Homo sapiens: one gene and its partner. The protein of the gene in region 1 purifies or fractionates together with the protein of each later gene. This does not show direct contact. Each region holds a gene or a part of one and is shown on either strand. Other genes may lie near its edges. The genes, in order: MTPAP and LIN28B.

Region 1 (3,819 bases):
ATTAAGTAAATTTATGGTATCATTTGAAAGAGGAAAAGATATATAGACTAATGGCTTATGTTAGTCATATGATTCATAGCTTTAGCTTTTCTTTTTCTTTTCTCTTCTTTTTTTTTTTTTTTTTTTTTGTTTTTGTTTTTTGAGACAGAGTCTCACTGTATTGCCCAGGCTGGAGTGCAGTGGCATGATCTTGGCTCACTGCAGCCTCCGCCTCCTGGGTTCAAGTGATTCTCCTGCCTCAGCCTCCTAAGTAGCTGGGATTACAGGCATGCGCCACAACACCTGGCTAGTTTTGTATTTTTAGTAGAGATGGGATTTCACCATGTTGGTCAGGCCTGTCTTGAACTCCTGACCTCAGGTGTTCCACCTGCCTCGGCCTCCCAAAATGCTTGGATTACAGTTATCTTTTTTATTTCTGTGAGATACTATCTTATGTGGCAGAGCCCTTTTGTTGGATCTATAGGAAGATAATGGAAACTTTTTAGTGTTTTAAATAAATAATGAATAATCCTTTGTTCCTCCTCTTTTTCCTCATCTCATACTTGGGAAACATTAATTAATATATTTAATTTAAGGGTTCTAATTTTGTGTGTTCCTGTTTCTACCATAATAGGTATGCTTTTAGCAAGTCTCAGAAATAAACGTATCTTCATCTTACTTTCTGATTTTTTAATCATTTTTTTCCCTTTCATGCTCTACCTTGTTAGGTAAAAGTTATATTATTTTAAAAATACTTTTGTCGGTTGAGTTAGTCCAGATACCTCTTCTCTGAGCAATGACATCATCATCCATAGATGATAAGCCCTAAGTTATTTCTCCAAAGAACACTCATAAAACTTACAACAGGGAAAAAAAAAACAAAAAATGAGAAGTACACACACCCACCATGCATACATACTCAATCCCCTGAGAAAGAAATTCTTTGCTATGTAAAGTTAATGCTGGTGTTTTATGTGTTTTGACATTTTATTGAGTTAACTGTTTTTATATTTAAGCCCTTCATGTACTTACTCATTTTTTCTTCTGTGTAATAATCTATAGGGAAGGGAGCAAAACAAACCTGATTCTTCTCCTCTGTACATTCAGAATCCATTTGAAACTTCTCTCAACATAAGCAAAAATGTAAGTCAAAGCCAGCTGCAAAAATTTGTAGATTTGGCCCGAGAAAGTGCCTGGATTTTACAACAGGAAGATACAGATCGACCTTCCATATCAAGTAATCGGCCCTGGGGGCTGGTATCCCTATTGCTACCATCTGCTCCAAACAGAAAGTCCTTTACCAAGAAGAAAAGCAATAAGTTTGCAATTGAAACAGTCAAAAACTTGCTAGAATCTTTAAAAGGTAACAGAACAGAAAATTTCACAAAAACCAGTGGGAAGAGAACAATTAGTACTCAGACATGATGGCTGCTACATTGTGTAAAGAACTGGGCTTAGCCTATCAAATGGTCTGTGGACTTACTTGGAAAAACTGATTTGAAACTTTCACAGATCTCAGCTTTCATCTGATGTCACTTTTCATGATCTTCTCATTGGCCCCCTTAACCTGGTCTGAAGTTCTGGGATGTTTTCAGTTTGATCAGTCTGATACTCAGTGGCACTTTATTAAAACATCAGCTGTGGAGTGTGGCGGTGCACACCTGTAGTCCCAGCTGCTCAGGAGGCTGAGGCAGGAGGATCTCTTGAGCCCAGGATTTTGAATCCATCGTGGACAACATAGCAAGATTCCATCTCTAAAAAAAATGAAAATAAACATAAGCCACAAGGAATGGGTGAAAGATTATTGTAATGTGCTTTAACTAAATAGGTAAATATACTAAACAAATGCTAAAACTCAGTTTTAGGATGAAACCATTGTTGATATCCACATCAGTCCCTGTTTAGAAAACATTTAAAATGACTTTTAGTTATGTACAGTACGTTGGCAATGAATACATTAAGCTTCAAAATTTGGTAGTGCTCTCGAATATGTATATTTGTATTTTTCAAGCGAAGTTCTCTTATTCACATATAAATTAAAGTGGGTTGGTACTGATATCAAAAAATGTTTATGTTTTTAGAACAGACATTTCAGTCACTGCATTCTTAGGTATTCCAAACCAAATATGATGACATCAATAGATTGCATTTTAAAAATATTGTTTGATTTTTCTATTTTCAAAAATAAAATTCTGTTTCTAACTAAAATGTGATATTCCCAGTATTCCTTCACATCTCTTTTGAGAACTCCCCTCTTCCTGCAGGAAAGAGACATATTTGTCTCTCAGTATATGCAGAAAATTGGTTCCAGGACCATCCACGTACACCCAGATCTGCACACACTGAACTCCTTCAGTCCTGTGGAGCCCGTGCATGGGAGAATTCCACCTTGCACATAAGCAGATTTTGCATCCTGTGAAAGTACTGTATTTTCTTTCTTTCTTTTTTTTTTTTTTTTTTTTTTGAGACAGAGTCTCGCTCTGTCGCCCAGGCTAGAGTGCAGTGGCGCAATCTCGGCTCACTGCAAGCTCTGCCTCCCAGGTTCACGCCATTCTCCTGCCTCAGCCTCTCTGAGTAGCTGGGACTATAGGTGCCCGCCACCACGCCCGGACAATTTTTTTGTATTTTTAGTAGAGACAGGGTTTCACCATGGTCTCGATCTCCCGACCTCGTGATCAGCCCACCTCAACCTCCCAAAGTGCTGGGATTACAAGCGTGAGCCACCATGCCTGGCCGAGAATACTGTATTTTCAATCCAAGTTTGGTTGGAAAAAATCTGTGTGTAAATGGACTTCGCAGTTGAAACCCATGTTGTTCAATGGGCAACTGTATATTGAAATTTAATTTCCATTACATTCTCTGTGGAGCAACTTTTTTGCTTTGTTTCGTTTTGTTTCTGAGACGGAGTTTTGCTCTTGTTGCCCAGGCTGGGGTGCAATGGCACAATCTCAGCTCACTGCAACCTCCGCCTCCCGGATTCAAGTGATTCTCCTGCCTCAGCTGGGATTACAGGCGCCCACCACCAAGCCCAGCTAATTTTTGTAGTTTTAGTAGGGACAGGGTTTCACCATGTTGGCCAGGCTGATCTCGAACTCCTGACCTCAGGTGATCGCCCACCTTGGCCTTCCAAAGTGTTGGAATTACAGGCGTGAGCCACTGCACCTGGCTTCTGTGGAGTAACTTTCTATTTAAGAAGCAAGTAAGGCCTGGGCATAGCGGCACATGCCTGTAGTCCCAGGTACTTGGGAGGCCGAGGCACAAGGACTGCTTGAACCTGGGAGGCAGAGGCTGCAGTGAGCTGAGATCACAGCACTGTACTCCATCCTGGGCGACAGTGAGACTCTCTCAAAGGAAAAGAAGCAAGTAGTATAGTGTTTAAAAACAGACTTGAGCGAGACTGGCTCAATGACAAGTTACTCAGTCTCTTGGGGCCCCTGTTTGATCTGTAAAATGGGGATCATGATCAGATCAATGTGAGGATTAAGCGAGGGATGTAGGAAAATGCTAGGTCAGTGCATTTTCCTGGCGCGAAGTAAATGTTACTTCTCTTTAACTGTTGCCTTTCGGTGTTTGTGGTATGTAATTACCTTTTTTGCTACTCAAAATTCAGATTTAGAGTTTGTAGTACTTTAAAAATTTTTCCCATTTAAATTTTATGTCAGAAATTATAATGGGTTCTGCATGGGATATTTTAAGAAACTCAGCATTGTTATGAAGCAAATGAATTCTGTGTCCTTGTGTCTGTGCTATTGGATTGCACATTTGACACCAACAAATATCAGTGTTCTGTACAGGCGATGTCTTTAAAAGCCATTTTTCATTTGTTCTTTATTTTGTTGG
Region 2 (4,343 bases), on another chromosome or scaffold:
AATAAAATATCTTAACATTTGATGAATATTTTAGAAGGTAAACATAGAAAATCAAATTATAAAAAGGCGTGACCAGACAAAGAAGGGTTATTTTTTTCATTCATCTATAAAACAAATTTATGAGATCATAAAAAACAATTTAACAACCTAAAGAAGGTTCAAAGGTGGAAGAAAGAGCCTGAGAGAAAATGGATTTGTCTATGATTTTTGTCATCCAGTCTTAGAGGGGAAAAAACAGAAAATGTAGCTTCATTTTGCACTATAAAATAGGAAGCATAAAATCCAGTAGTCTGTATGTGGACTTGTATTTGTGTACTTAAACCCTGTTTCAATTCACAGATTATGCTGATCCTTCCACATATAAACAGCCAATAATGATGGCCAGGCCTTCAGGAAAGGAAAACACACACCACACAGCAAGGTCAGGAAGCTACCAAGCACCACAGGACAACAGATCAAAACAGAATGGTTTCATATGTTTCTATTGTTTATATATTTAATTTGAAGATGATATTCCTTAGGGAAGGGGGTATAAATATTACTAGGAACATGCAACACAGTATCAAATATATACTTTTCAAGCAAATATACCAAATATTTCACCCATGTATCTGTCAGTCAATCTGTAGTATTAACAGCCTTTCATTCAATTCTTTTTAACTTAGATTATCATGCCAAAATAAACCTCTTTAGTCGTAAACCTCTTTATTTCTAACTACAGAAAATTTATATTTACCTTTTTTTGAGGAAACAACCGGCTTCCATAAAAGTATCTTTTTTACTATAAAGGGATTAAGCAGTAGAGAGGAGTAAAGGCAGAAGTATTAATTCATTATTTCCTGGGTAAAATTTTGAAAATGGGAAGCAATGAAATTCTGTTTGGTATTAAAACATCTTTAAAAATTACAACACAATACGAGCAAAGGTGGAAATTTACCCCAAGTAGCAGACCAGCACATTTTAAACACACAAGCAAGAGCCGCCTCTGGCCACATGTTTTTTTGAGTTCAGTCTCTTAAAGAGACAGTATACGTAGACCAATGACTACACGGAGCACATTTCTAAAATGTTTATCAAGCATCCCTCTATTGCACGCATTTCTTTACAACCACATTAGGCCAACAGTGTTCTATTTTATTTTACTATGAAGTCAAATTATTTTGATCTGAATCTACAAAATGATTACAGGACAGGCAGCGATGAAATAATAAAGGGAGCTACTGTGACTAGAGGTGTCTAAAATAAGGCAATCTATACATTTCTTTCCACAGCAAACTGTTTCGCTTTGTTTTTTCAACCTTAAAATGATCATGTTTCTTCATTTTTCTACCCATTCACCAGATACAGGCGACAAAGTATATTGTATAGGTAATACCGGAAACAACAAGAACACTATTTCGCTGTAGAATGAAGCAGGGGGAAATGCTAATAACGTCAACCTTAATATATATAGTGAAATTTCAAATATTTTCTTTTCTCTTTAGACAGAAAACCCAGGAAAAGGCCCATACACGTACCCTAAACGTTGGACTACCTAGTGATTTCAGGGAAGATTTTGTCTTTCAATATACCGAAGGACATCTTATCGTACGTCTATTGGCATAACTACCGATCAGCTCCTCCACATGGAAAAAGATGAAGAGGGGGACAAAAAAGTTTGGCTTACTTGGTGTACAAATACATCGACTGGAATATCCAAGGGGCTTCCCTCTCGGTTTATCATGGAGATGAATCCAAATCCCATGCGCACATTGAACCACTTACAGTGGCCAGTTCCGCGCAAAACCTGGGATTCCTCCTCTGCCGGCTCCGGCAGCTTCCCGGGCTCTTCTCCACCACCTTTGCTAGCCCCGCCTGAGAAGGAACAGGACAAAAAAGTCAGTCTGTATTCCCATTCAATGTGCATTCAAAGATTAAAAAAAAAAAATTGCCTGCCTGGGGTTGGGGGGGAAGGGTAACAGAAAAAAAAAATTTTTTTTAATGGTTTGATTTCTTTTCTCCACAGAAAATACTTAAAATGAAAAGGGTTAAAAGGAAAGCGGGGGAGGGGGAAGCCACACTGTTCTATCGATCACACCAACTTCCACGTTTCTATACATACGTGTACTTATTCATTTAACTCCATTTTTCAGCCACATTTTACATTACAGCATGCGATACTTTACTTGTATATTGCTGATTTAATACTGATCCCATTGACAAAGAGAAATTTTCAGCGAAACTATTCTCTCCGGCGGGCACGAGGAGGAAAGAGAAATCGTGAAGATGGTTTAGAGCTACTAGTTAAGGCACATGGGGCAGCACTGAATCCAGCGTTATTTGCAATGTGCATTCCCCTCCCCCCCATAACTTTCAATTAAAGTTGGGGTGGAATGGGGGAGGGGGCAGGTGTATAAAAGTTTTCTTGGAATCACTAACTGAAACTGCGCTTAATCACACTCACACAATTCAAACAATAGCCCCCTGAAAGCTTTTCAAGTTGTGAATCAGTGTGGGCGGTACAAAACATTTTTGGAGATCTATAACAATAGGTTTGCAGAAAGCCCCACTGCGTGATGGGGGGTTGGGAGGTAATGCCCAGTATTGGGGTAAAAGGGGAAGGGGGGGACGGTCTAAGAAGGGTGGGAGAGGGGGAGGGGGAGGAGAAAAGAAGAAAGAAATTCACAGTAAAACAATAGAAAAGAAAATTAACCTTCGGCCATGTTGCCCCACGGGCCCTCAGCTCCAAACTCGTGAGATGAAAACTTTCCCTTTGGAACGGAGTGATCTTCTGCATCAATCTAACATCTTGATTTTGTGCGATCACAAATTTAGCTCGCATGGTCTAATGTGCTTTCCTTCTTTTGATTTTTTTCTCTCCTCTCTCCAGTTTCTGGCCCCCTGAGCACACGTGACTTTGTCAATTACATGCTTTCTTGCTACTAATTTCACCTCGTATCCTTAAGGGGCTGGCAAGAGGAAGAGATAACCAATCGCCATTTCATCTATGCTGACATCAAAATAATTTATGAATGAACACGAAAAACTCAAACATGTTATCTTAAAGACAATTTGGAACGCTTCTTTAGGATAAATCAGAATGCTGATTTCGTGCTTCTACTTAAACACAATGGAGGGACCTTGTGAATCATAGATTTAGAAAAAAAGGCAGTCATATATGTGCACACGCGTGCCTTACACACAAGCCTGACTAAAATCATGGGAGGGGGTCGTTTAAATAAAACAACCGATGTTAACGCTTTTTTTCCCCTTAAGAATTCAGCTATTCCATGGCAGTAAACCTGCTTGGAACGCTAATTTCATATTTAATTCAATTCTTAGAGGAAAATATATAATTTATAAAAGATCTAATTAAACCTAATTACATCCCCATGAAACTTTAGATAATGAAAACATACACCTAGGAAAAGGCAGAGGCACATAAATTACCTGATTATGCCCGAAATTTTTTCAAATTTAAAATAAAATCCTACTAGAAAAATCGTTTTCACCTTCATATAGTCAAATTGTGTTTAGGTAAACCATTTTGGAAAATTTTAGAGGGGGTTGGTAAGGAATTGTACTTCACAGGTTTCTCTGCCATCTCTTTCCGGGGGAGGAGATGTGATTAATGACTTCCTAAATAACAGCCCAGTTTTCCAGCCTAACATAGAGTGAACCTCAATCAGTGGCGATTGTTCCCCAAGAGCTGGAGGACATAGGGCAGGAGGGGGAGGGGATCGCCAGGCAGGGGAGGTGAAGAGGAGCCGCCAGGATAGGCGGCAGCAGAGTCAAAGAAAGAGGTGGGAGAGAAAAAAAGCCGGCGCGGGCAGGGGGTGGGGTGGAGAAAGAAGGACAAGTGGGAGAAAAAAGGTAAATTCATATCATATTGACTTGTACCCTGACATTTTAAAAGTCCACTACCAATGGCTAGAAGAGTTGAATAAACGAAAATGTAACAACGGATGAAGCTCCTACTGTCCTTCCTCAACTGACCCCCAGTTTCAAAATGCCTACCCCCTTTACCTTTCAAACTGGTTCAAACGATTGATTACAAGATGCTGGCAACAGTATTTCTGCCCTTATCGAATACTATAATAAATATTATAGATTAACTAAAAAGACTTTATTTCCTTTAAAATATAAAATATCGCTATTTTAAAACCTTAAAATGCACCACCAGACTTGCCTACCCCACCCCCCATTTTCTTAAACAAGCAGTTTACCAAGAAACTAACTGTTCAGATACCACTTCCTTCGACAAAGCTACCGAGTTGACCCTCCCCCACCATGCCAGCAATCCCCCTCCCAGTCTCTTCAAACACATCCACACTCCAGCACTGTTTCACACAAGCTAAAATGTA

What was found.
Region 2: the proteins of MTPAP (region 1) and LIN28B purify together in Homo sapiens (co-immunoprecipitation; one large-scale study listed by IntAct). This does not show direct contact.

Annotation. Positions count from the first base shown.
Region 1 is NC_000010.11:30,311,194-30,315,012, reverse strand, and holds part of MTPAP (poly(A) RNA polymerase, mitochondrial precursor), read left to right. Parts: intron 1-1,041; coding exon 1,042-1,404; 3' UTR 1,405-3,819. UniProt on the Homo sapiens protein: Polymerase that creates the 3' poly(A) tail of mitochondrial transcripts. Can use all four nucleotides, but has higher activity with ATP and UTP (in vitro). Plays a role in replication-dependent histone mRNA degradation.
Region 2 is NC_000006.12:104,955,610-104,959,952, reverse strand, and holds the start of LIN28B (protein lin-28 homolog B), read right to left. Parts: upstream 2,847-4,343; 5' UTR 2,703-2,846; coding exon 2,693-2,702; intron 1,855-2,692; coding exon 1,667-1,854; intron 1-1,666. UniProt on the Homo sapiens protein: Suppressor of microRNA (miRNA) biogenesis, including that of let-7 and possibly of miR107, miR-143 and miR-200c.